2 linked regions of the Homo sapiens genome follow. The protein of the gene in region 1 interacts with the protein of each later gene in a biochemical or structural test. Each region holds a gene or a part of one and is shown in the gene's direction. Other genes may lie near its edges. The genes, in order: GAB2 and CRKL.

The links.
Region 2: the proteins of GAB2 (region 1) and CRKL interact in a test that uses a peptide from one of them, tested with the Homo sapiens proteins (one study listed by BioGRID).

What each region holds. Positions count from the first base shown.
Region 1 is NC_000011.10:78,412,922-78,425,647, reverse strand, and holds the start of GAB2 (GRB2-associated-binding protein 2), read left to right. Parts: upstream 1-7,827; 5' UTR 7,828-7,927; coding exon 7,928-8,002; intron 8,003-12,726. UniProt on the Homo sapiens protein: Adapter protein which acts downstream of several membrane receptors including cytokine, antigen, hormone, cell matrix and growth factor receptors to regulate multiple signaling pathways.
Region 2 is NC_000022.11:20,915,708-20,927,436, forward strand, and holds the start of CRKL (crk-like protein), read left to right. Parts: upstream 1-1,699; 5' UTR 1,700-2,227; coding exon 2,228-2,538; intron 2,539-11,729. UniProt on the Homo sapiens protein: May mediate the transduction of intracellular signals.

The sequences.
Region 1 (12,726 bases):
TGTGTTCAGAGCTTTGTATACCACACTCTTTCAGCCCTGGTATGCCACACCGTGAATTTAGTGTTCACTTACAATAATCATTTTGAAAACATGCATGGAAAATACAGAGGAACTGTGAACTGCTAAAATCATTTGTCTGGTTCAGGAAAGTTTCAGAGGAAAATCTCGGGGCTTTTTCCTAGAATGTTATGAAAATATTAAATTATACTGATTGCTGCCAACATATTTTCTAACCATTCTAGGAAAAGAAAAAACAACAAAGTTTCCAGCTCTTACTCTAGATTGACACTGGACCTTGGAGATGCTTGCAGGTAATTTGACTGCACCTACTTTCCTTTTTTGGTTAATTGTGTTAAATGTGCCTCATAACTTACATTCCCGGTGAGGCTGTCATTTAGAAGGGGTGGGTGGGGGCTGAGGGGAAGCTGTTTTAATTCTGGCTTTTGTTTCAGCCACTAAATGTAATGCCACATGATTGTTGACCCAACAATAATCCAGTTAAAAAACAGTCTTCAGAGTTACTACATCATCAGAATTAACCCTGATTACATCAAATTATGTTGAAACAGACCACAGCTGTTTGCCCTGTTGAAGCAACTGCTTGAGAGCTCCTCCGGAAGATACATCTGGGTGTCACTAAGATACATTTTGGGTTTAGTTTTGTTTCTCAACACAAATGTAGGAGGGAAACAAACCCTGTTCTGCTGGGGTGCCTGGTGGGAGCTGAAAACCTTGTGATTCTCCAGCAGTCAAAAGTCATCTCAATTACCAAAGAGAAGGGAACCTGAGATCTTTTGTTTCAGTTTTCTATAGGAAGGATGTAAGAGGAAGGAAATTCAAATCTGTTGAGTATTGCTCTTGCCAGCAAAAAGAAGTGGAACTGACTAGTGAGATGGTGGTGAGATTTTCTTTGGTGGCTGTGTGCAGTGGTATCAACCCAGGAGAGTAGACTGTTCAATTGTGAAGAATTTTGCAAGATGGTTGTTAAAGTAGAACATCGTTAAAATTAAGTTGTAATAAAAAAAGGGAAATAAGCATTGGAAAAGATGTGGACAGATTGGAACCCTCATACATTGCTGATGGGAATGTAAAATGGTGTAGCCACTGTGGAAAAAAGGTCAGCAGTTCCTTAAAAAGTTAAACAGTGTCACCATATGACTCAGCATTTTCACTCCTAGATAAATACGTAGATTGAAAACGTATGTCCACACAAAAACTTGTACAGGAATGATCGCAACAGCATTATTCATAATAGCCAAAAAGTGGAAACAACTGTAATGTTCATCAGCTGATGAATGGATAAAATGCGGTATATAAAGAACTGTCAAGTGCTTCAACATGGATGAAACTTGAAAACATTATACAAAGCGAAAGAGGTTAGACACACAGGTCACATATTGTATGAATATGGTTATGTGAAATGTCTAGAATTGGCAAATCCATAGAGATGAAAAGTAGGTTAGCGGTTGCCAGCTGATGGGATTGGGGGAATGGAGAGTTGCTAATGGATATGGTGTTTCTTTTGGGGTAATGAAAATGTTCTGGAATTAGATAGCTGTGGTGGTTGTCAAAGTTGATGAATATATTAGAAACCATGAATTATAAACTTTAACATGGTGACTTTTGTGATACGTGAATATCTTAATTAAAAATTAAGTTATATAAACTTATAATTAAATAAGTTATATTAAAAAGAAAGGTAGTAACTACCCCAAACTCATCACTTGGCTAATTACATTTTACTATTGTGTTCTTGGTGTTATTTATGTCTATTGTGTCTTTATGTTGGAAATACTAAATAATGGTGTATTACTGTGTATCTCTTAACTCTGTATTCAAGGACATTAACTTGATAGCTTAAAACTGGCCATGGCTGGCAGAGTATTTATGCCACAACAGTTGGCATATACTGTAAATCAAGGCACCCACCAACACCACCAGGGAGCCAATTTTAAAATATTTGCCAGCACATCATTGGCTATATTGTCGGACAATCATCTTGGGTAATTCTGGTAGAATTATATAGTTAGATGAGGTGAAATCCTGAGGCCTCTAGGTTCCCAGCAAAACAAAGACTAGCAAGCCTGCACAGTTACTATGCAATTTATCAGGTGCAGAAGGAAATGACGTTTCTGGTCATCTGTTGAATAAAGCCACTTTGAGTTCAGGGGACATGGTTTTCTCCAGCTTCACTAGTGTTGCATCTGGTACAAGGGGTTAAGTGCTAAACCCCTGTAGGATTGTCACAGTGAAGCCAGATAACAGAGTAACCGCAAAGAGATTTAATTCTGTAGTCCCACAAAGGAGGGTGTGTAAAGAGTGTACAACAGTGTCAGAGTTTGGAAACCAAGGGTTGACAAAGTTGGTTCTCTGGAATCTGGGGGTACCAGTTAAAAGGTTAAAAGGAGTCATTGTTTTCTGAAACTATCCAAGAGTTACAGCCATGTTTTTTTGTTTTTGTTTTTGTTTTTAAGATTTCGGGGGAATCTTATTTTCTCACATGTTTCTGGAATTTTTCTTTTTTTTTTAATTTAAGTTCCAGGGTACATGTGCAGGATGTGCAGGTTTGTTACATAGGTAAATGTGTGCTATGGTGGTGTGCTGCACCTATCAACCCATGACCAAGGTATTAAGCTCAGCAAGCATTAGCTATTTTTCCTAATGCTCTCCCTCCCCCAACCCCCTACCCACTCACAGGTCCCAGTGTGTGTTTCCCTCCCTGTGTCCTGTGTTCTCGTTGTTCAGCTCCCACTTATAAGTGAGAACATGCGGTGTTTGGTTTTCTGTTCCTGTGTTAGTTTGATGAGGATAACGCCTTCCAGCTCCATCCATGTCCCTGCAAAGGACATGATCTCGTTCCTTTCTATGTCGAGTTACAACCATTTTTAAAAGTGGAACTGCACAGGATTACCTCAGCCTGCTAAGTCCTTCCAGCTAGGCCGTCCCTGTGGGTTTAAACGCAATGTAAAGAAAGTGGATGTTAAGTGTTCTTACCACAAAAATGATAACTATATTAGTTAATGCATTTGTTAGTTAGCTAGATTTAACCATCCCACAGTGTATTTTATGTATTTGTATTTATATTTCAAAACATCATATTGTACATAATAAACACATCGATGTTATCTGACAATTTTTATTAAAAAAAACCACTCCAGCCACTTATAGGTACCTTCACAAATACTATTCTCTGGTTTGTATGGATCAGAGAGTTCTAGATGTTCCAGTAGTCTACAGCCCCAACCTGTCATCCTTTAAGGGTTGGTTCCTTCATTCTCACAATGAACATTTAATGAGCATCTATTCTGTGCTGGTACCATGCTGGGAAGCTCTGGGAATACAAAAATGAGGAAGGGCCAGATGTGGTAGCTCATGCCTGTAATCCCAGAACTTTGGGACACCAAGGCAGGAAGATCACTTGAGCCCAGGAGTTTGAGACCACTCTGGGCAACATAGCAAGACATTGTCTCTAAAAAAATAATAAGTGAGAAAAACACATTCATGTCTTCAAGGAACTCACAATTCCTCGACAAGGAAATATTTGCTGTACAGTGTGATAATCCAATTTATATAAGTGCAGTGTGGATACCAAGAAAAGAGTGAACAACTTTGCTGGAGAATGGGGACAGTCAGTTTTAGGGAAAGAGGTCTTGACGTATGTTCAAGATCTAATTCAAGGTAGGAGTTCTCTCTGCAGAGCAAATAAAAGGAGCCAGCATTGCAGAGTGTGGTTTGGAAGACTACAGCACTTTCTCAAGGATCTTGACAGTCTTTGTTCTTGGTGGATTATGACAACTGATTTACCAGTGTCAGCAGCAAAGTCGTGGGAGCCTAACTGCCACAGAGCCATTAGCACTGATTCTGGTTATTTTCAAAGGAGAAATTGGGAAAATGGGATTGCTCAAGCTTTTCTCTAAGAAAGTTTTTTTTTGTTTGTTTGTTTGTTTTTTGAGACAGAGTCTCACTCTTGTCGCCCAGGCTAGAGTGCAATGGTGCGATCTCAGCTCATTGCAACCTCCACCTCCCAGGTTCCAGCAATTCTCCTGCCTCAGCCTCCCAAGTAGCTGGGATTACAGGTGCCCGCCACCACACCCAGCTAATTTTTGTATTTTTAGTAGAGTTGGGGTTTCACCATGTTGGCCAGGCTGGTCTCAAACTCCTGACCTCAAGTGATTCACCCGCCTCAGTGTCCCAAAGTGTTGGCATTGCAGGCATGAGGCACCGCACCCGGCCAAAAGTTTATTTTCAAAATGTCTCCCACTGGGTATAGTGTCAAGTAACTCTCAGACTATTAGCCACAGACAGGGAGGAAACCCAATTAGGTCTTTAACCCCACCCCATTCCCACTTCCAGATCTCATCCTCAACCAGATGCCCAGAGTTGACTTGAGTAAGTTAAGGTAATTTGATATAGGGAACCATGTGGGCCTCAAGTAACTAGGGGTTAAAGAAGCATACACCTTTATATGCCTGAGAGATGAGTGTCCTGAAAGACACCAGCTGAGGTGGTTCAGCTGGTCACACTGACCTTCGTAAGCAGCACTCAGTTCTGAAATTAACCTGTCAACTAAATTGAAGGGGAGAAAAAGCAGAAGGGCTAGCACACAAACATCCATCCCCACCCCCAGTCCAATCACTGACGTCAGGCCTGGCGTGGGTGGTATTAATCACACAAGCTTGGTGTGCAGTTGAGGACAGCTCTCCTTCCAGCCCTTCAACCCGTTTCTGAAAGCATTCCACCAGCCATGCACCTGCCGCTGGCCACAAACCCTCAACTCCCAGACAGGCACGGATGCAGCGACGGATGTCCCTGACGACACTCAAAGCCACAGTGCACCCTTTAGAACCCCAGGCTTTGTGGGGAGTGGGAGTAGCTATGAGCGGGGGCCAAAGTGGTACCCATGCTCTCCCAGTGTGCATTTCTCTAATCTCTGCAGTGCTCCCTCCTCATAAGATAGTCATTTCCTGAGAATTTAATAAGAATATAAGATTAATGACCCAAAGCACTCTTGGAGCCGGCGATTAATTCCCCCAGGAAATACCAGTGGTCTTTAAACAAAATTGCCTAAATTATGGGCTAGTGATGCATGTCCGCTCAGGGCTTGGGGGTGGGGGGATTGTCACCCCAACTGGTTCCGATAGATGGCGCCTATCTTCATGTAAATCATTCAAATGATTTGTTTTCCATTTTTTTCCCAGCAAAAACCGGGGACCATTTAAACAGACACACACAGCAGGGAGTGGAGAGGACTTAGTAAAAGCCCAGACAGGAACTTTCCGTCCAAGGGTTGTTTCCAGGCCTGGCACGCCTCTCAGGCTCAAAAGACTGAGCCACTCCAGGGTGCAGCCAGGGACTTGAGCAGCAGTCTTGCTTCCTATGCACAGCCCGAGATGGGCACTAGCAGCAAGAGGGACGCAGGGTGGGAGTCCAGCTGAAGAGCACAGTAAAAAAGCCCCTTTCGGCCGGGCTCACGCCTGTAATCCCAGCACTTTGGGAAGCCGAGGCAGGCGGATTACGAGGTCAGGAGATCGAGACCATCCTGGCTAACATGGTGAAACCCCGTCTCTACTAAAAAAAAATACAAAACATTAGCTGGGCGTGGTGACGGGCGCCTGTAGTACCAGCTACTAGGGAGGCTGAGGCAGGAGAATGGCGTGAACCTGGGAGGCGGAGCTGGCAGTGAGCGGAGATCACGCCACTGCACTCTAGCCTGGGCAACAGAGCGAGACTCCGTCTAAAAAAAAAAAAAAAAGCTCCTTTCTTTAACCTTTGGGGAAAGATGGGGGTGTTCAGAGAACCCTTCCCAAAGTCGATACCTGGTGACTGTTGTATTCATATTTCAAGGTCCCTCCTGCCATTGGCCAAACAAGAAACATCAAACTTTTCCATTTCCACATGAAATTGTAAATAACACCATCTTTTCCTAAGCAAACAAAATAAGACTTTAAGGAATTTCTGGCAGAATATGACCTAACCCCCACTAACTCTTGCTAAACAGTCTTCCAGTCTGTGTATTGAATCATGTAACTATCAAAGGATACGTAAGACTACTCTTCTGGGGGAAGATAGGGCATACGTATGCCTGACTTGCATCACAAACCTCAGCTGCAGCCAAACCATGCAGATTTCTCCGACTCTGCAATCTCTGGGACTTGGCACCATGACTCAGATGTGAATGAAGTCAGGATAGTTTTATTTTGGTTGGAAGTCACCGCCTCCTGATTGATTTGGCAGACGTTAAGTGTTGTTTGTCTTACAGGGATTTAAGGTACTTAAAGCCAGAAGTTAAAATGGCCATCATTCTGGTGGTGGCCCTTCATACGTGACTTAAGGATCCCTAAATTGTAAGGTTAAGGGAGCTGTGGTCCCAGCCTACCAGTTCTGGCTTTACTTCCCATCCAGCAGCACACTGGATATTGAAGAAAGTCAGTGAAATGTTAGATCCAGGGGACTGACCGCTAAAACTCCCAGGGTATCTAGAAGAGCTAAGTACGTGGTAGGGGATTCGCTTTTCCAAATTGAGGAGGGTGAACTTCCCCCAACCCAATCAAGATCTTTTGGACCAAATGATGTCCAACTGCTTGAAACAACTCAGCTGCACAGAGACAGAAATAAACAAAACAGCTTTAGTCTGAGGTTGTGTGGGGCACTGCAAGATGCTGCTTCTCCAATTCATCTGTCCACACAGCACGGTTCCCCATTGAATAAACAGGTTACTATCCACTTATCAGAGAAGTTAGGGAGGACCTGCCTTTTAATGCTGCTTAGAGAGACACTTTGTGATGAGAAAAGAGCTCGTACAAAAGATTTTTTTCTCCCCCCTCCCGCTGAAGTGCTGGGGTTGTGTGCTTCCACGTACATCTGGGATACCATTATATTTACAAACAGAGGTCTCATAGCCTGTGTCAATGAGCGGGAACGTTGGGGAATTTGGACCCCAATTTCTTGTTCTTCTGCACTTGACCTTGCCTTCCAATTCGTTATGAAATACATTGACTAGTTTTGCTTCTTCCATTCTACAAATCATGCGAATTTTCTATACTAAACTGTGTTTTCCCAGAGGCAGTGTAGGAGGGAGTCAGCTGGACTTGGTTTCCAGGCAATGAGAGGCTCCCAGGTCGATCCCATTAAGGCAATGCCCTCATTTTGAATAGCAGATGACCGGGACCCCTCCTCCCCCACACACCTGAATTGGAAAATTGGCTCGGCTTTGTACAAGCCCTTGCCCTTAGGCTGTCCATAAAATAGGAACAATACTGAAGACAATCCTGTAAGCTACAAAAGCAAAGGCTCCGGCGCGTAGTAGGTCCGTCTCCTCCTCCCGCCGAGGGACGCCAGAGTTAAGGAGCTTCTTGCTGGGAAGGGGTCCCTCCTTTCAGCCGGAACCTGACCCGCAGAATGTATCGGAAATGTGAGCAGCCCTAGTATCCCTTCCCCGTCGACGCTCGGTGAAAAATCGATCGACGACCGAGGGCGCGCAGTCCCTTCCCCTCACACCCGCCAGCGCCAGGGGCGCGGTCGCCTCCCTGGCCTCCGCGCCCGCGGCTTGGGGCCTCAGGAGAAAGCGAGACTCCGGGGCGCGCCGGCGGCGGTGGCTTTCTGTATCCTCGCGGGTCCCTAGCCCCGCGTCCGCGTGCGCGGCGGCCTCGGGGGCGCGGCGGGAGCGGGCGTGGCGAGCGAGCCGGCCTTCCTGCTGCAGCTGCTCCCCCGGCGGCCGGGCGGAGAGTGCGGATTGCGCGCGCTCGGGGCGGGGGAGCGGGCGCGCGCGAGGCTGCCGGGCTCGCGCCGCGCCGCGCCGCCTAGTCCCCGCCGGGCCGCCCGCCCCGCCCCTGGCCTCCCGCGAGCTGCGCACCGCCGGCCGCTGCCCCAGCTGCCCGAGCCCGCGCCCTCGTCCGCGCGACCCGGCGGGGGGCTCCAGGCCGGCAGCATGAGCGGCGGCGGCGACGTGGTGTGCACCGGCTGGCTGAGGAAATCGCCTCCCGAGAAGAAGTTGAGGCGCTATGTGAGTGCGGGCGCGGCCGCCCAGGGGCGGGCGGGGGGCGCTCCGGGGCCTGCGGAGGGGCGGGGGACTCCCGGAGGGGCGGCAGGCTGGGGAGCTCGGGCCCGGAGCCGCGGGGGGCCGGGGGCGAGGAGCGGCCGGGGGCGTGTGGGGCACCTGCACACCTGTCACAGGTGGGCCGCCGAGGGGCGGGGCGGGCGGCAGGTTGAGGCTGCGGCTCCTGCTCCGCCAGGCGGGTGCGGCTGCGGCGCCTCCCAAGCCGGTCTGCTCGTGAACTAAATACAGTGTCGAAGTTTTGTATTGATGGCTTCTGGAGACCGAGAGAGTTGACTCTCGGGGCTGGGGCTCCGCGGCAGCCCCGAGCAGCTTCAGCCCGCAGGGTCGGGGAGAGGGCGGGAAAGGGGGGCGTAGGCTGTGGGGCCGCGCGGACGGCCCCACAAAGGGCGAGCGCCTCACGCCCTCTCCTTCCCTTTCTCCGCCTGCCCCTCCCGGCCGCCGGCCTCCCTCCGTCCGCGGCTGCATCACCGGCAGCGTCAGCGGCATGTGCAGCCCTTGTATTAAGTGACTCATTTGTTTGTCCCCCTTCTTTCCCTTTATTCCGTTCGTCTCTCACAGGCGCCTCCCCCCGACCCCGGTGTGACACTGCAGTTTGGTCCCCGTGGCTGGCCCGGGTTTGGGACCGGGCAGCTCCCGGGTGTCTGGGGTCGGGAGAGATCGAGGCTCTCCGCGGCCAGGTGTTGCCAACCGACAGTGTTTACTGAGATCGCTGGAACAGCCTTTTCCCTCTAGGTGGGGAACTGGCAGCCTGGGGGAGGTGGAACAGCGTGGCGCTGAGCCGTGGAGTTCTGGCTTTTTTTTTTTTTTTTTTTAACCCCTCTCCCCAGAGGATGCCTTGCCTGGTGAGGTCAAAGTACAAGATGGTGCCAGTTACTGAGATTTGGCCGAAATGGTCTTGGGGTAGTCGCGGGAGTTTGGAAGTGGGGGTAAGGTTGCTGGAAGGTTTCAAGGTCTCTCATCTGCTCCCTCTCCGTTTCCCATGAAATGCCCTTGTTTAACGGGCTGTGGTGCCGAACTCCGGGATCACTCCCACAGCCTGGAAGGGAGCCGTTGCCTCCAGCTGCAGTGCATCAAGGGAGCTCGGAATAGACCCTGCCCTCTGTCAGCTGCACCAGTGGCTGTCCATGGGGGGAGAGGCAGAAGCCTACCAGAATTTCCTGTCTTGGCTCCCCAGATCAGAATCAAGGGACTTCTGGCCTCTGGACTGAGGAAGTGACATTCTGTTTTTCAAAGGAAGTGTTGTTGTTGCGGAGTACAAGTGTGTGTCAATGAAATCAGGCTCTTAGGTAGATGTTTGCTGGGGGAAAAAAATCTAAGGATTTAGCACATGAGTTTTGAAAGTGGACGTGGATTTATAGGAGGAATGAAGCAGTGAATTGTTCATCTCAGTTCGGAAGCTCATTTTTAGGAGTGTCTATGTAGCCAAAGTATAATTATTAAGAAATAAACTTTTTTCCTCTTCAGGGTTGTATCAGTTCGTTAGGAAGGTTGAATATTTTAATTAGGATTAAGGAGCAGTGATTTACTATTAACAATTTTATAAATAATTTAAAAACTTTGTCCCGAAGAGCTTCCAAAAATTATCTATACAAATAGATTTCCATACAAGCTAGTGGAATACAGTGTCCACAGTAAAAAAAAAAAAAAAAAAAGTGACCCTTAATTTTCAAGTTTGAACACTATACACTAAAGAACCTTGAAAGTTGTTTTTGAAACAATTTGCAAACAGTATGACACTGTATCTACATTTGACTTATCGCTCCTTGAACTCTCACCCAGACTCTATGACCCATTTCTTGGGTGTTTTTGTTCCCAAACAACTTTAGTTCAAAATAACCAGGTTTGGAGGCATTTGGGTCAAGCACCTTTTTCACTGATTTGAACGAATCTAGTCGTATGATGGCCTTAGCCTCTCTTTCCCATCTTCCATGTACCTTCAGCCCATCAGGTGTCAGACCTTAACAGCTTTAAGTAACAGCTTTTCTTAGGTTAGGATGTGATGTGTTCACTTACATGACTGGAAGCCTCTGCCCCTTCGGAAGTTCAGTTTCCCCCTAACTGAAACTGGTGATATGTGTAACCTTAAGCCTCTGGGGAACAGTATGCCTTTACATCTACTTTTCTTTTGGGGTATTCAGAATTTTTGCATCCTGTTGTAAGTTAAAACTCTGCTAGTTTGCTTATTTCAGTAGAGGCCCGAGTTCATTAGAACCAAGCTTGGAAAGTATTTCCCAGCCCCATGGCTGTATATTTACCCCAAAGTAGCTGCTGCTTCTGGTATACATCATAGGCGTGTTATATTGTAGATTGAGAAATCCTCATTATAAGAATACATCGAGCATATGTGATAAGGGGAAAAAGTAGTTGAACTAGGTTATAACTATTTAAAACGATTTTTTAAAAAACTGACTTAATTTGAAGTCTGGGCGCAGTGGCTTATGCCTGTAATCCCAGCACTTTGGGAGGCTGAGGCGGGTGGATCACTGGAGGTCAGAAGTTCGAGACCAGCCTGGCCAATGTGGTGAAACCCCGTCTCTACCATAAATATAAAAATTAGCTGGGCGTCATGGAGGGCATCTGTAGTCCCAGCTACTCAGGAGGCTGAGACATGAGAATCGCGTGAGCCCGGGAGGCTGAGGTTGCAGTGAGCCGAGATCGTACCACTGCACTCCAGCCTGGGTGACAAAACGAGACTCCATTTCAAAGAAAAACAAAAAAACTTACTTAATTCGGAAAGACGGGAAGGTGTAGAGGGGAAAAACATCTTAGAAGAAGCAAAGGCAAATGTTTGAGCAATTAGTTTTCAGGGATTTTTTTCATCAGCCTTTTCTAGTTAATTAAGTATAAGTATAAGAGACCTATCTGCTATTTACTGAGTGCCCTGGAGAAATTGCAAAAAGTGTCTCTGGAAAATGCTGACTATTGCCTCTGGGGCATCCTGATATGGCTGCAGTGGGAGGCCGGCAGAAGTAACAACCCTCCCATCGTGCCTCAGTGTATTTGTGTGTGTATGCGCGTGCATGCAAATGCATACACACGTACATGTATATAATTATTAAACAGAATTTTCTTGAGGAAAAACATTTTATTAATATGACCTACACTGCATTGTAGTTTTCTATCAATTTCACTGGATTAAAAGATTGAGGGAATAAGATTGGCAGACTACCCCCTAGTGGCTAACTTGAAGAAAGTTGTGCACAAATTGTAAAGAACTACTGCATTAAGGTAACAGTAATTGTTTATTTCCATTATATTTATTAAATATACTTATTAAATCTATGTCCCAGGCACTGGATCAGGTGCTTGGAATAAAAATCCAGTAAACAGAAAAAAAAATTAATCCAGTCTTTCAGTCTTAGCAATGGCTTTGCCTTCTCCTTCAAAGGAAAATTGAAATGATGAGGGAGTAGTTGTCTGTACGTACGATGAATGGCCACATTTTCAAATTTACTTGTATCTGCATAGTTCCTTTCTTTCTTCCTTTTTTTTTTTTTTTTTTTTGAGACAGAGTTTCACTTTTGTTGCCTAGGCTGGAGTGCAATGCACGATCTGGGCTCACTGCAACCTTTGCCTCCTGGGTTCAAGCGATTCTCCTGCCTCAGCCTCCCAAGTAGCTGGGATTACAGGCATGCATCACCACACCTGGCTAATTTTGTATTTTTAGTAGAGATGAGGCTTGACCACGTTGGTGAGGCTGGTCTTGAACTCCTGACCTCAGGTGATCCACCCGCCTCGGCCTCCCACAGTGCTGGGATTACAGACAGACATGAGCCACCGCGCCCAGCCTGCATGGTTCCTTTCTTGTTTCCTTTTCTTAGAGTAGATGAAGTGCCACTTCTATCTGAGCTAATCCTGCTACTTATACTTTGAATCATATCTTCTCCTCCCTACTCAAATAATTCTTATCCTGTAACACATCTTCAACTTCTTTCCCTCTCTGTACTACCTACTTTTTTTCAGGGATAAACTTGGTGGTGGTTTATGCAGTCTTCCTTTCTCCCACCTTCTTCTCAGTCGGCTCCAGTGGAAACCTACTTTGTTATTCACCAAAGCTATTCTGACAAAGGCACCAGCGATACCCAGGTCACTAAACTCAGAGGATGATTTTTTACTCCTCATTTTAATTAATCTCTTCACTGCTTGGTCATAGTTGACCACTCTTTTTTAAAACACCTTCCTCTTATCTTGGCTGACACTATAAATGCCTGTTATTTCTCCTTTTCTGGCTACTCTATATTTCCTTTGCTAGACTGACCCTTTTATCCAGTCCTTAAAGGTTGAAGCTCCTTTATAGTCATAGTGGCTGTGTGGTTTCTCCCCTTTGGCAACCTTGTCCATTCTACTGGCTTCAGTTATCATTTGCATGGTGGTCATCAAGTTAAATTTCCATCTCAGAGTTGTGTTCTGAACTTCAGACTTACATATCCAACTGTTAACTGGGCATCTCTATTTGAATGTTTCCCAGTCAACACAAACTCACCACTTCCAAAACTAAACTCTTCTTTGTTCATCTCTTCACTCCACATCTGCTCAGTAAACAGTGCCACTAAGCACCTACTTGCTCAGATGAGAAACTTGGGCATCATCTTTGACTCCCCGTCACCCACTATCCCACATCTAATCTGTCACCAAAACCCATTAGTGGTATCATCTAAATATCTTGTTAT
Region 2 (11,729 bases), on another chromosome or scaffold:
GTTTGAGCTCAAAAGTCTGAGACGAGCCTGGGCAACATGGTGAGATTTCGTCTCTATTAAAAATCAAAGGCCGGGCGCGGTGGCTCACGCCTGTAATCCCAGCACTTTGGGAGGCCGAGGCGGGCGGATCACGAGGTCAGGAGATCGAGACCATCCCGGCTAAAACGGTGAAACCCCGTCTCTACTAAAAATACAAAAAATTAGCCGGGCGTAGTGGCGGGCGCCTGTAGTCCCAGCTACTTGGGAGGCTGAGGCAGGAGAATGGCGTGAACCCGGGAGGCGGAGCTTGCAGTGAGCCGAGATCCCGCCACTGCACTCCAGCCTGGGCGACAGAGCGAGACTCCGTCTCAAAAAAAAAAAAAAAAAAAAAAAAATCAAAAAAATTAGCTGGGCATGGCAGCGCGAGCCTGTAGTCCCAACTACTCGGAAGGCTGAGGTGGGAGGATCCCTTGAGATGGGGAAATCAAGGCTGCAGTGAGCCATGATAGTTCCACTGCACTCCAGCCTGGGTGACAGAAGGAGAACCTGTCTCAAAAACAAACAAAATAAAACAAACAGGCTGGGCACGGTGGCTCACGCCTGTAATCCTAGCACTTTGGGAAGCTGAGGCAGGCAGATCACCTGAGGTCAGGAGTTTGAGACCAGCCTGGCCAACATGGTGAAACCCCGTTTCTACTAAAAATACAAAAATTAGCAGGGCATGGCGGCGGACAGCTGTAATCCCAGCTACTCGGGAGGCTGAGGCAGGAGAATCGCTTGAACCCGGGAGGCGGAGGTTGCAGTGAGCCGAGATCGCGCCCCTGCACTCCAACCTGGTGACAGAGCGAGACTCCGTCGAAAGAAGGAAAGGAAAGGGAAAGGGAAAGGAAAGGGAAAGGGAAAGGAAAGGAAGAGAGAGAGAGAGAGAAAGAAAAGAAAAGAAAAAAGAAAAGAAAGAAAGAAAGAAAGAAAGAAAGAAAGAAAGAAAGAAAGAAAGAAAACAAACAAAAACAAATAGGGATTAATAAATAGGCAGAAGCAGGCATAATCCGGGGCAGGGGAAGCCTCGGGGCCACGCCCGAGAGGCATTTGTATTTTACTTTCAGCAGTTCAGAGCCCATGATAGCCAGGTTACCCACTTGTGGACTTCCTTGACCACTTAATTGAGTCAATCTAACCCTCACCTTCTCTCTCCTCTCACTCCATTTAGCGGGTCACGTAGCCACTAGGGCTTCCTTAGCCTATCAGGCCACCTGGGGACTGAGTCATTCAGTCAGTCACCTATCTGGTGGTCACATCTGCCCCTGGGCTCATCCTTTTACTGGGCCACCTCGGCCCATCGGGACCTGTCAGTCCTTGACCTCCCTCAGGCCCCTAGGCTGGCCAGGTCGCCTCAGTGCCACGCCTCCCTGGCCCGCGATTCAGCCTGCACGTTACGCTTTGTTCCCAGAAGCAGGTTTTCGAAACGCGGTTCCCTCTCGGCTCCAGCTGTTTTCCTGCCAGCGCTGGGAGACCCGGCAGCCGCAGCGCCCCCAGCGGCGCGCAGCGGCCCAGGAAGAGAGTGCCTACCGCCGGCGCCTCTTCAGCCTCCTCCTGGAACGCGGGAGCGGGCGCGACCAGCGCCCACCCTGATCGTCGCGACGGTGCTCCTGATTGGCTGCGCTGTGTGACGTAACGGGAGGGCCCCGGCGGCCGCCGGGAGCCGGGGCCCAGCGCGTGCGCAGACGGAGCGCGCTGAGCGGAGGGGGAGGTGGCTGCCGCTTCTCCCGCGTCCGCCATTTTGTTGCTGTGGCTATTGGGAACAAGCTGGGCAAAAGCACCCCGGAGGCGCGACGCTCCTTCGAGTTCGGTGCCTCGTGTGACGGCGGGGGTCGGTGAAGACCCGTCGAGCTGCGGCGCCGGCGCGTTCCAGGCCGGGAGTCACTGGAGGCACCCCTGGGACGCCGAGCAGCCCGAGAACCCCGGGGTGGCCTCCGCTGCGGCTCGGGTTTGCCTGCCCCGACCCCCCGGCTCTGCCGTGCATTCCCGGGCGGCTCTCTCCGTGTGGCGGCCCCGGAGCAGGCGGGCGGCGTCGGAGGATGCTGCGGGCCCGGAGCCGAGAGGAAAGTGCTGGCCCAGCCCTCTGAGCGCTCCTCGAGGTGTGCGAGAGGCCCTTCCTCGGCCCCAAAGCCGTCTGCCGGGCTAAGGCGTGCAGAGCAGGCGAGGACAGCCGCCGCCCCTACCGCCGCAGAGTCCCCGGTCCAACACCATGTCCTCCGCCAGGTTCGACTCCTCGGACCGCTCCGCCTGGTATATGGGGCCGGTGTCTCGCCAGGAGGCGCAGACCCGGCTCCAGGGCCAGCGCCACGGTATGTTCCTCGTCCGCGATTCTTCCACCTGCCCTGGGGACTATGTGCTGTCGGTGTCCGAGAACTCGCGGGTCTCCCACTACATCATCAACTCGCTGCCCAACCGCCGTTTTAAGATCGGGGACCAGGAATTTGACCATTTGCCGGCCCTGCTGGAGTTTTACAAGATCCACTACCTGGACACCACCACCCTCATCGAGCCTGCGCCCAGGTACGCGAGAGCCCTCCCCGACCGCGGAGGAAGGTCGAGAACCGGGTCTGTCGAAGAGTGCTTGTATAGGGGGGTGGGGCGCGCTTGAACCCATATTCCCCGCATTCTGAACCAAATTATTTTCCAGAAGGCCTTCCTAACAGAAAGCTAGTGTCAGGATCTGGGTCACTGGATAAGAGGATGCGTTTTTTTTTTTTCCCTCTCACGAGGCTGTTTCTCAATGTGAAGAGGATGCGTTTTGAATGTTTAACGGTGGTTGCATAGTTAAAATGCACGCTTTTTGCCTTTCGTGACTTTCTCTGGGTGTAATACTGATGCAGGGATTTGTTGGTTTTTCTAAAAACCTCTTTTTTTTTTTTTTTTTTGAGACGGAGTCTCGCTGTGTCGCCAGGCTGGAGTGCAGTGGTGCGATCTCGGCTCACTGCAACCTCCGCCTCCCGGGTTCAAGCGATTCTCCTGCCTTAGCCTCCCGAGTAGCTGGGACTACTGGCTCACGCCACCACACCCAGCTAATTTTTGTATTTTTAGTAGAGACGGTGTTTCACCATGTTGGCCTGGATGGTCTCGATCTCTTGCCCTCGTGATCCGCCTGCCTCGGTCTCCCAAAATGCTGGGATTACAGGCGTGAGCCACCACACCCGGCCAAAAACCGTTTTTAAGCCATAGACTTCTTTGAGAATCTGAAGATAGCCGAGCACTCACCACCCCACCCCCACCCCCACCCCCACCCCTCCCCGCCAAAGGCACGTACACACAAGTTTGCACACCATCCCGGGTGCTTGTACTCCCTCCAGATCTCTGAACTCCAGGTTAAGAACTCCAGGACTGCAGCCTTTGGAACAGTCAAAAAAATGAAAATGCTTTAGCGTTTAGAAACAAAAAAACCTTTAACCAAAATATCAGAACTGTATATTGATACTGTGGTGCCAAGTTTGAAGCAGGCCAGACACCACCACTTTTATAGTACGTTAATTACAAAGATAAGAGAAGGTGCATTGGCTTCAGCGAGGATATTTTTTGGAAAATTTATTGCATATTTTCTCCCCGAGGACCATTAGTAGGCCAGAGATCAGTCTGGTTAATTTCCAAGGTGGAATTAGGCTAGAATGTTATTAAGGAAAATTTTTGAATGACACTTAGTTGTATCCTAGTTCAATTTCAGACATGCTTTTTGTGTTAAGTCTAATGATTTTGTATTTCTTATTTTAAAATTAACGCAAAGTGACCAAGCATTCTCTTTTCCAAGTGAAATACGTTATTTTAATTGATTAGTTGCTTTAATTTGCCTTAAGCGTTTTAGCAGAGATTTGCTTTTATTGTTGTGTTTGCCCTGTAACACTGATTTTATCAGAGGTTTCTTTTATTTAAATTATCCCAAATTTGAGTTGAAAAGTTGCCTAGAATTTTTAAAGTAACAAACTGGCCAGTTCGTTTCTTAAACATCTATTTTAAAAGGACTGGGTGTTGATACAGTTTTTCCAGGGTTAGATGTTTATGACTTTATGGATTTGTCGACCGGGTATTACTCTAAACTTTAAACATTAAAAGCTATTATAATTGAGGACACCAACTGTTTGCATAGTGGGATAGAGATAGAAAAAAAAAAGCCATGACAGTATAATGACTACAAGATTAACTACTGAACTAAATGGACTTTAAAAGTGGGGAGAAAGTGATTATAAATCAAATACTGTATAACAAAGACCAGGACACCAAGAATCTGATTGGTGAAACCTGCGGTTCCTGGCAGATGCTGGTAGTTGCAGTCAACTTTGAGCACAATATAATTCCAATTTAAGGAGTTGAGAATCTTAGAACCCACTGTAGTGAGATTTGTAATATGACTGAATAAATTCTTCCTCTCGTTTGTGAGCGTGAATTATATAATTAATACCAGGCATTCATTAAGCCATGCATATGCTTATGTTGAGGTCATGAGTACTAATAATACAGCTGTTTCAAAAAGCAAGTTAATGGGCGGGTGTGGTAGCTCACGCCAGTAATCCCAGCACTTTGGGAAGCCAAGCCGGGCGAATCACGAGGTCAGGAGTTCAAGACCATCTTGGCCAACATGGTGAAACCCCGTCTCTGCTAAAAATACAAAAAATTAGCTGGGCGTAGTGGTGGGTGCCTGTAATCCCAGCTACTCGGGAGGCTGAGGCAGGAGAATCGCTCGAACCCGGGAGGCGGAGGTTGCAGTGAGCCGAGATCGCGCCACTGCACAGCCCGGGTGACAGAGTGAGACTCTGTCTCAAAAAAAAAAAAGGAAAAAGTTAATGACTTGAGTCTCCTTCTAGAGGAAGGAAAAGAAGTATGCCGCTTCTCTCTATCCACAGAATCGCCTCCAGATTTTCCGTACATGCATGCATCTTCTTAGAGAACAAGCATGTAATTCTGTCTTTGCCCTCTTTCGTCCTTCCTTTACTGCAGCTGTACTAGGCTGCTCACTTATTCCCTGGTAGCCATCCTTCCTTACTCATACCTTTGTACCTTTGCACCTTTGCTCCAGCTGTTGGCTCTTCACTGACTGCCTTAACTACACCTCACTCTCCATCTGTTGAAATCCTACCTGTTGTTCCAGTCCCCTCACAGATTATAGGGCCTTTCTCTGACCCTACCCCTCACGTTCAGCTTTGTTTCTCCTTCTCTGTGCCCTCTGCCTCAGGCCTGTTGCTTTAATTTAGTTTTTCATTTTCCTAGGTATCTCTGAAGGAGATCACCATGCTGGTTGAATTAGATCCTGACTGAGTTTACTTTGTTATACTGAATCTTCGAATTGCCACTCCCAAGCCTGGTTTTCATGGCTTAGGTTTAACATGTTATTAGCCTTTTATAGAAAGCTAGTGACTACTAGAGCCTGGGCCAAACGGAAAACTCAGTGTAATGCTTCTTCGCATCCCAAACAGGGTACATTTAGTGGCTTAACTTTGCAGGCATCAAAACTGAGCTTTTAAAGCCAGAGTTTCATGCCTCTTGGCTAATATTTTGGTTTATCTTGCATAGCTAAAATTTGTAACAATAATGTCCTACTCGAAATTTAAGGACTGGTGGCTTGCATTGTTATAGTCTTATCCTTTTCATTAGAATGCTTCATAATTTTTAATTTTATATTTTTATTCAAATGTTTATAAGAGAATTATAACCCAGTGTAACCCAGTGTAGGTACTGGGAAAGATGTGTGACAGACATACTTTCTTCCTGTGGAACTCCTACTGTAGTGGAGAAGACAGACTGAAAAGTAGAAAAATAAAGTACTAGTAAGATCAATATACAGGAGGGACCTACCTGGGGTGGCGTGGTCAGAGAAAGCATGAAGCTAAGACCTGAGGGTAAAGAAGAACCCAGCCTAGGCAAGGCTTGGCCTGAGAGGAGGAGAAGAGCCTTCCAAGTTTAGGGAAAAGCTTATGTAGATGTCCTGAGGTGAGAAAGTCCATTGTGTTGGGAGTGTGTTTCTTTTCTTTCTTTCTTTTTTCTTTTTTTTTTTCTTGAGACGGAGTCTTGCTCTGTCGCCCAGGCTGGAGTGTGCGATCTCGGCTCACTGCAAGCTCCGCCTCCTGGGTTCACACCATTCTCCTGCCTCAGCCTCCCGAGTAGCTGGGACTACAGGCGCCTGCAACCATGCCGGGCAAATTTTTTGTATTTTTAGTGGAGACGGGGTTTCACCATGTTAGCCAGGATAGTCTCGATCTCCTAACCTAGTGATCCGCCCGCCTCGGCCTCCCAAAGTGCTGGAATTACAAGTGTGAGCCACTGCGCCCGGCTTTTTTTTTTTTTTTTTTTTTTTGGTAGATGACGTCTCACTCTGTGGCCAGGCTAGAGTGCAGTGGCCCAATCTCGGCTCACTGCAACCTCTGCCTCCCAGGTTCAAGTGATTCTCCTACCTCAGCCTCCTGAGTAGCTGGGACTGCATGGGACTACAGGCACCCGCCACCATGTCCGGCTAATTTTTGTATTTTTAGTAGAGACAAGGTTTCACCATGTTGGCCAGGATGGTCCCTATATCTTGACCTCATGATCCACCTGCCTCAGCCTCCCAAAGTGCTGGGATTACAGATGTGAGCCACCCTCTCCGGCCTGGGAGTGTGTTTCTTAAAGGAGAAAGGGGGACATATAAAATGAGTTTGGAGATAAAGATCAGGGTCAGGAATTGGGTTTTTATTTAAAGTGCTGTGGGCTCCAAGGAAGGAATTTGAGGCAGAGGAGTGACCTGGGGCTGTTATTGTAATCCAGCTACAAAATGATGGTGACTAATAGTGACAGTGGAGCTGTGACTTGGAGATGCCTATTTTGGAGATAAAATTGATTTGCTGGTGGGTGGGGATGAAGGGAAAGGGAAGAAGGGATGATTTGGTCTATTTGTAACTTTGTTATCTTCTGTGTTTTTATCTTTAACTGCTTTTTGTATTTGTGGTATTCCTATGGTGGATTTTATTTTATTTATTTTTTTGAGACCAAGTCTCCCTCTGTCCCCCAGGCTGTAGTGAAGTGGCATAATCTGGGCTCACTGCCACCTCCGCCTCTGGGGTTTAAGATTCTCCTGCCTCAGCCTCCCTAGTAGCTGGGATTACAGGCATGCACTGCCACACCTGGCTAATTTTTGTATTTTTGGTAGAGACAGGGTTTCACCATGTTGGCCAGGCTGGTCTTGAACTCTTGACCTCAAGTGATCCACCTGCCTGGGCCTCCCAAAGTGCTGGGATTACAGGTGTGAGCCACTGCGCCTGGCCTAGCTCTAGTGTATTTTTATTTAATAAGGGCTGTTTCCAGTTTAACAACAGAATGCTTCAGAAGGTAGCTTGCTTTGTTTGACATTTTCCATTTCTAGCTTGTGTCGATAGATAAATTCAGGCTATGAAGAAAAATTAGAATAAATAAAATTTTACCATTAAAAACTAAAGGAAGTTGGCCCTTCAAGAAAATAATGTACTGTACTCAGCAGACTTTGAGCATTACATGTACCTGGTAATATGGAACCAACATTGAATCAGACAGCCCTATCATGCTTCTGAGGAGCTTACTGGTTACTAAAAAAAAAATTTTTTTTTTTTTGAGACGGAGTCTTGTTCTGTCGCCCAGGCTGGAGTGCAGTGGCGGGATCTTGGCTCACTGCAAGCTCCGCCTCCTGGGTTCACGCCATTCTCCTGCCTCAGCCTCTTGAGTTAGCTGGGACTACAGGTGCCCGCCACCATGCCCGGGTAACTTTTTGTATTTTTAGTAGAGACGGGGTTTCACCGTGTTAGCCAGGATGGTCTCGATCTCCTGACCTCGTGAACCGCCCGCCTGGGCCTCCCAAAGTGCTGGGATTACAGTTATGAGCCACCGCGCCTGGCATTTTTTTTTTTTTTTTTGAGACAGAGTCTTGCTCTGTTGCCAGGCTGGAGTGTGGTGGTGCAATCTTGGCTCACTGCAACCTCCACCTCCTAGGTTCAAGTGATTCTCCTGCCTCAGCCTCCCAAGTAGCTGGGACTACAGGCGCACGCGCTACCACACCTGGCTAATTTGTGTATTTTTAGTAGAGATGGGGTTTCACCATGTTGAGCAGGATGGTTTTCTGTCTCTTGACCTCAGGGGATCTGCTCGCCTCGGCCTCCCAAAGTGCTGGGATTACAGGCGTAAGTCACCGCGCCTGGCTACTAAAAAAAAAAAAAATGTAAAGGTTGGCTGTGCTCGGTGGCTCGTGCCTGTAATCCCAGCACTTCGGGAGGTTAAGGCAGGAGGATCGCTAGATCCCAGGAGTTTGAGACCAGCCCTGGCAAGATAGTGAGACCCCATTCCCACAAAAAATTAAAAAATTAGCTGAGCATGGTGTCATGCGCCTTTAAGTCCCAGCTACTTGGGAGGCTGAAGTGGAAAGATTGCTTGAGCATGGGAGGTCGAGGCTACAGTGAGCTATGATCATGCCACTGCACTTCAGCCTGGGCAACAGAGCCAGACCTTGTCTCAAAAAATGAATGAATGAATGAATGTAAGTTGTATATATTTAATATATTTAATCTCCATGCATGGTGAAACAGCTGTGGGAGAACTGAGAAAGGGTGCTTAGTCTAACCTGAGAGCCCAGAAGAGGAGCCTCACACACCTGTGAAGTAGAAGCCAATCCCTGAAGGGACAGGAGGAAACAAGAAGCATGGTTGTGCCTCCTCTTTACATCCCCTGTTCTAATTATTTAAGAACTCAAATCTAGACTTCCATAATTTGGAATGGGGAAAGGATTGCCAGTAATTTTAATCAGCATAGAATTCAACTCTGTGAATAAACCCCTTTGCGTTTCTCCTGACCAGTAGTTAAAATCATGTGAATTTGATTCAGAGAAAAATACAAGAACATGGCCAGGTGCAGTGGCTCACGCCTGTAATCCCAGCACTTTGGGAGGCCAAGGTGGGTGGATTGCCTGAGTGCAGGAGTTTGAGACCAGCCTGGGCAACACGGTGAAACCCTGTCTCTACTAAAATACAAAAAATTAGCTGGGCATGGCGGCGTGTGCCTAAGAGGCTAAAGGCAGGAGAATCACTTGAACCTGGGGGGTGGAAGTTAAAGTGAGTCGAGGTCGTGCAGCTGGACTCCATCCTGGGCGACAGAGTGAGACTCTCTCCAAAAAAACAAAAAACAAGAACACTGTCATGCTGAGAATGGAATCTTGTCCAATTAAGAGTTGTGTTCCCAGCCGGATGTGGTGGCTCACGCCTGTAATCCCAGCACTGTGGGAGGCTTAGGCGGGCGGATCATGAGGTCAGGAGATCAAGACCATCCTGGCCAACATAGTGAAACCCCGTCTCTACTAAAAATACAAAAACTAGCTGGGCGTGGTGGCATGCATCTGTAGTCCCAGCTACTCCGGAGGTTGAGACAGGAGAATCGCTTGAACCTGGGAGGCAGAGGTTGCACTGAGCCAAGATCACACCACTGCACTCCAGCCTGCCAACAGAGCGAGACTCCGTCTCAAAAAAAAAAAAAAAAAAAGAGTTGTGTTCCCATGGAAAGTACTAGTAGCCATTCGATTTGTGACTTTTAAAACTCAAATCCACAGAATTGTGACCTAAATTTTTCCTTTTGATCTGAATGATTAGACTAGATTTCTGAGGGTCTTTAAGATTAAAATATTTTAATTCTGGGCCGGGCGTGGTGGCTCACGACTGTAATCCCAGCACTTTGGGAGGTCTGGCAGGTCGGGAGTTCGAGACTGAACCTGGGAGGCAGAGATGACAGTGAGCCGAGATTGCGCCAGCGCCACTGCACTCCAGTCTGGTCAACAGAGCGAGACTTCGTCTCGGAAAACAAAAAACAAACAAACAAAAAACATTATTTTAATTCTTTCAGATAAGTAAAAGGGGGCACAGCCTATTAGTTGGGAGTTCAGATTAACTTGAGTTGAATCTGAGCTAAAATCATAACAAGTTGGGTGGGGCCACCAGGCACATAGCAACTCACCTGGAATGAACGTGACAAGAACAGTGGAAGAGGATGAGAAGAGGCTTTGAAGGTGCACACTCAACGGTATTCGAATTCTGTCACACCAGTTTTGTGACAGTATTAAACCAGAGTTAGGTAATTTGAATACCTGAGCTTTTGTGCTTTCAGAAACAAAAAAGGAGGGAAATAGGAAAGGGAAGTTCTTTGATATATAGAGGCCTACAATATACCAAAGCTCACTGCTAGACTCTTGGAATCTAATGGAAGTAAACCATGTTTTTGTTTTTGATTTTTGTCTTTGAGAAGCTTTGGTCTATTGAAAAAATTAGAATGCCATGACAGCTTAAAAGCAAAGGCAATCAACTGTACCTAAGAGGTGGGGAGAGGCTTGAAAGAGGAGATGCTCTTCAACTGATTCTTTAAGGATGAGAACAAGTATACGAGGTAGAAGAGGTGGTGGTAGAAGAGATGGTGGCAGTGCTTGCTGGTAAAGACACAGTTATAATTAATGTAGATGATGGGCAGGAACCTAGGAAGGAAAGATAAAGCCAACTTGTAAAGGGCCTCCTCAGCCTTGTAAATGAGCTTAACAATGGGAGCCATCTAAAGTTTTTAAAAAGAGAACTGTCAGATTTTAAAAGGAGAACTGATGAGTTTTACTTTTGAGAAACTGCTCTGGGTGGGGAAAGATCTGAAGGACTAATTCTCTGTTACTGGAGAGGGACCCTGAGAAGCTGAGCCAAGATCAAATGCCATAGGAATGTAAAGTGGCACATAGAAGGTGAGGGGAGAGGTATGATGACTTCAGAGAGGATTGAGTGGTGCCTTTGAGACAAGAGAAAGGGATTAGGGTGGGTGCGTGATTCTTTTCAACAGGAAGAATCTTTCTTTGAGGTACCTGCTGGAAGCCAGGTGGTATTTAGCAATCTGATGGGTTTGTTATTGAGAAGAGAGGTAAGGGCTGAATACATATAGATTTGGGAATCGCAGCTTAGATGGGATCACCCAGAATGAGGAGGCAGAACAGGAATAAGTAGAGAAAGAGAAGCTGCGGAAGGAGAGGCAGCCACAAGCATAGGAGGAGGAGCCATTAGTGATGGCCTGAAAGCCCAGGGACAGAAGGGAGGGGACCTGGGCATTAAATGCTGGTCAGTGATAAAGAATGGTGGTTACTGGCTGGACATGGTGGCTCACGCCTGTAATCCTAGCACCTTGGGAGGCGGAGGCAGGTGGATTGCCTGAGCTCATGCGTTCGAGACCAGCCTGGCCAACACAGTGAAACCCTGTCTCTACTAAAATATAAAAAATTAGCCAGGCATGGTGGCGTGCGCCTATAGTCCCAGCTACTCGGGAGGCTGAGGCAGGAGAATGGCTTGAACCTGGGAGGCAGAGATTGCAGTGAGCCAAGATCGCACCACTGCACTCCAGCTTGGGTGACAGAGCAAGACTCCGTCTCAAAAAAAAAAAAAAAAAAAAAAAAAGAATGGTGGTTAAAGCAGTTTCACTAGAGAAGTACTTAGCTCATCTTGGAATTGAATTTTTTTTTTTTTTTTTTGAGACAGTGTCGCTCTGTCGCCCAGGCTGAAGTGCAGTGGCATGATCTCGGTTCACTGCAGTCTCCACCTCCCGGGTTCAAGTGATTCTCCTGCCTCAGTCTCCTGAGTAGCTGCGATTACAGGCGCCCACCACCATGCCCGGCTAATTTTTGTATTTTTAGTAGAGATGGGGTTTCACCATATTGGACCAGGCTGGTCTCAAACTCCTGACCTCAGGTGATCCAA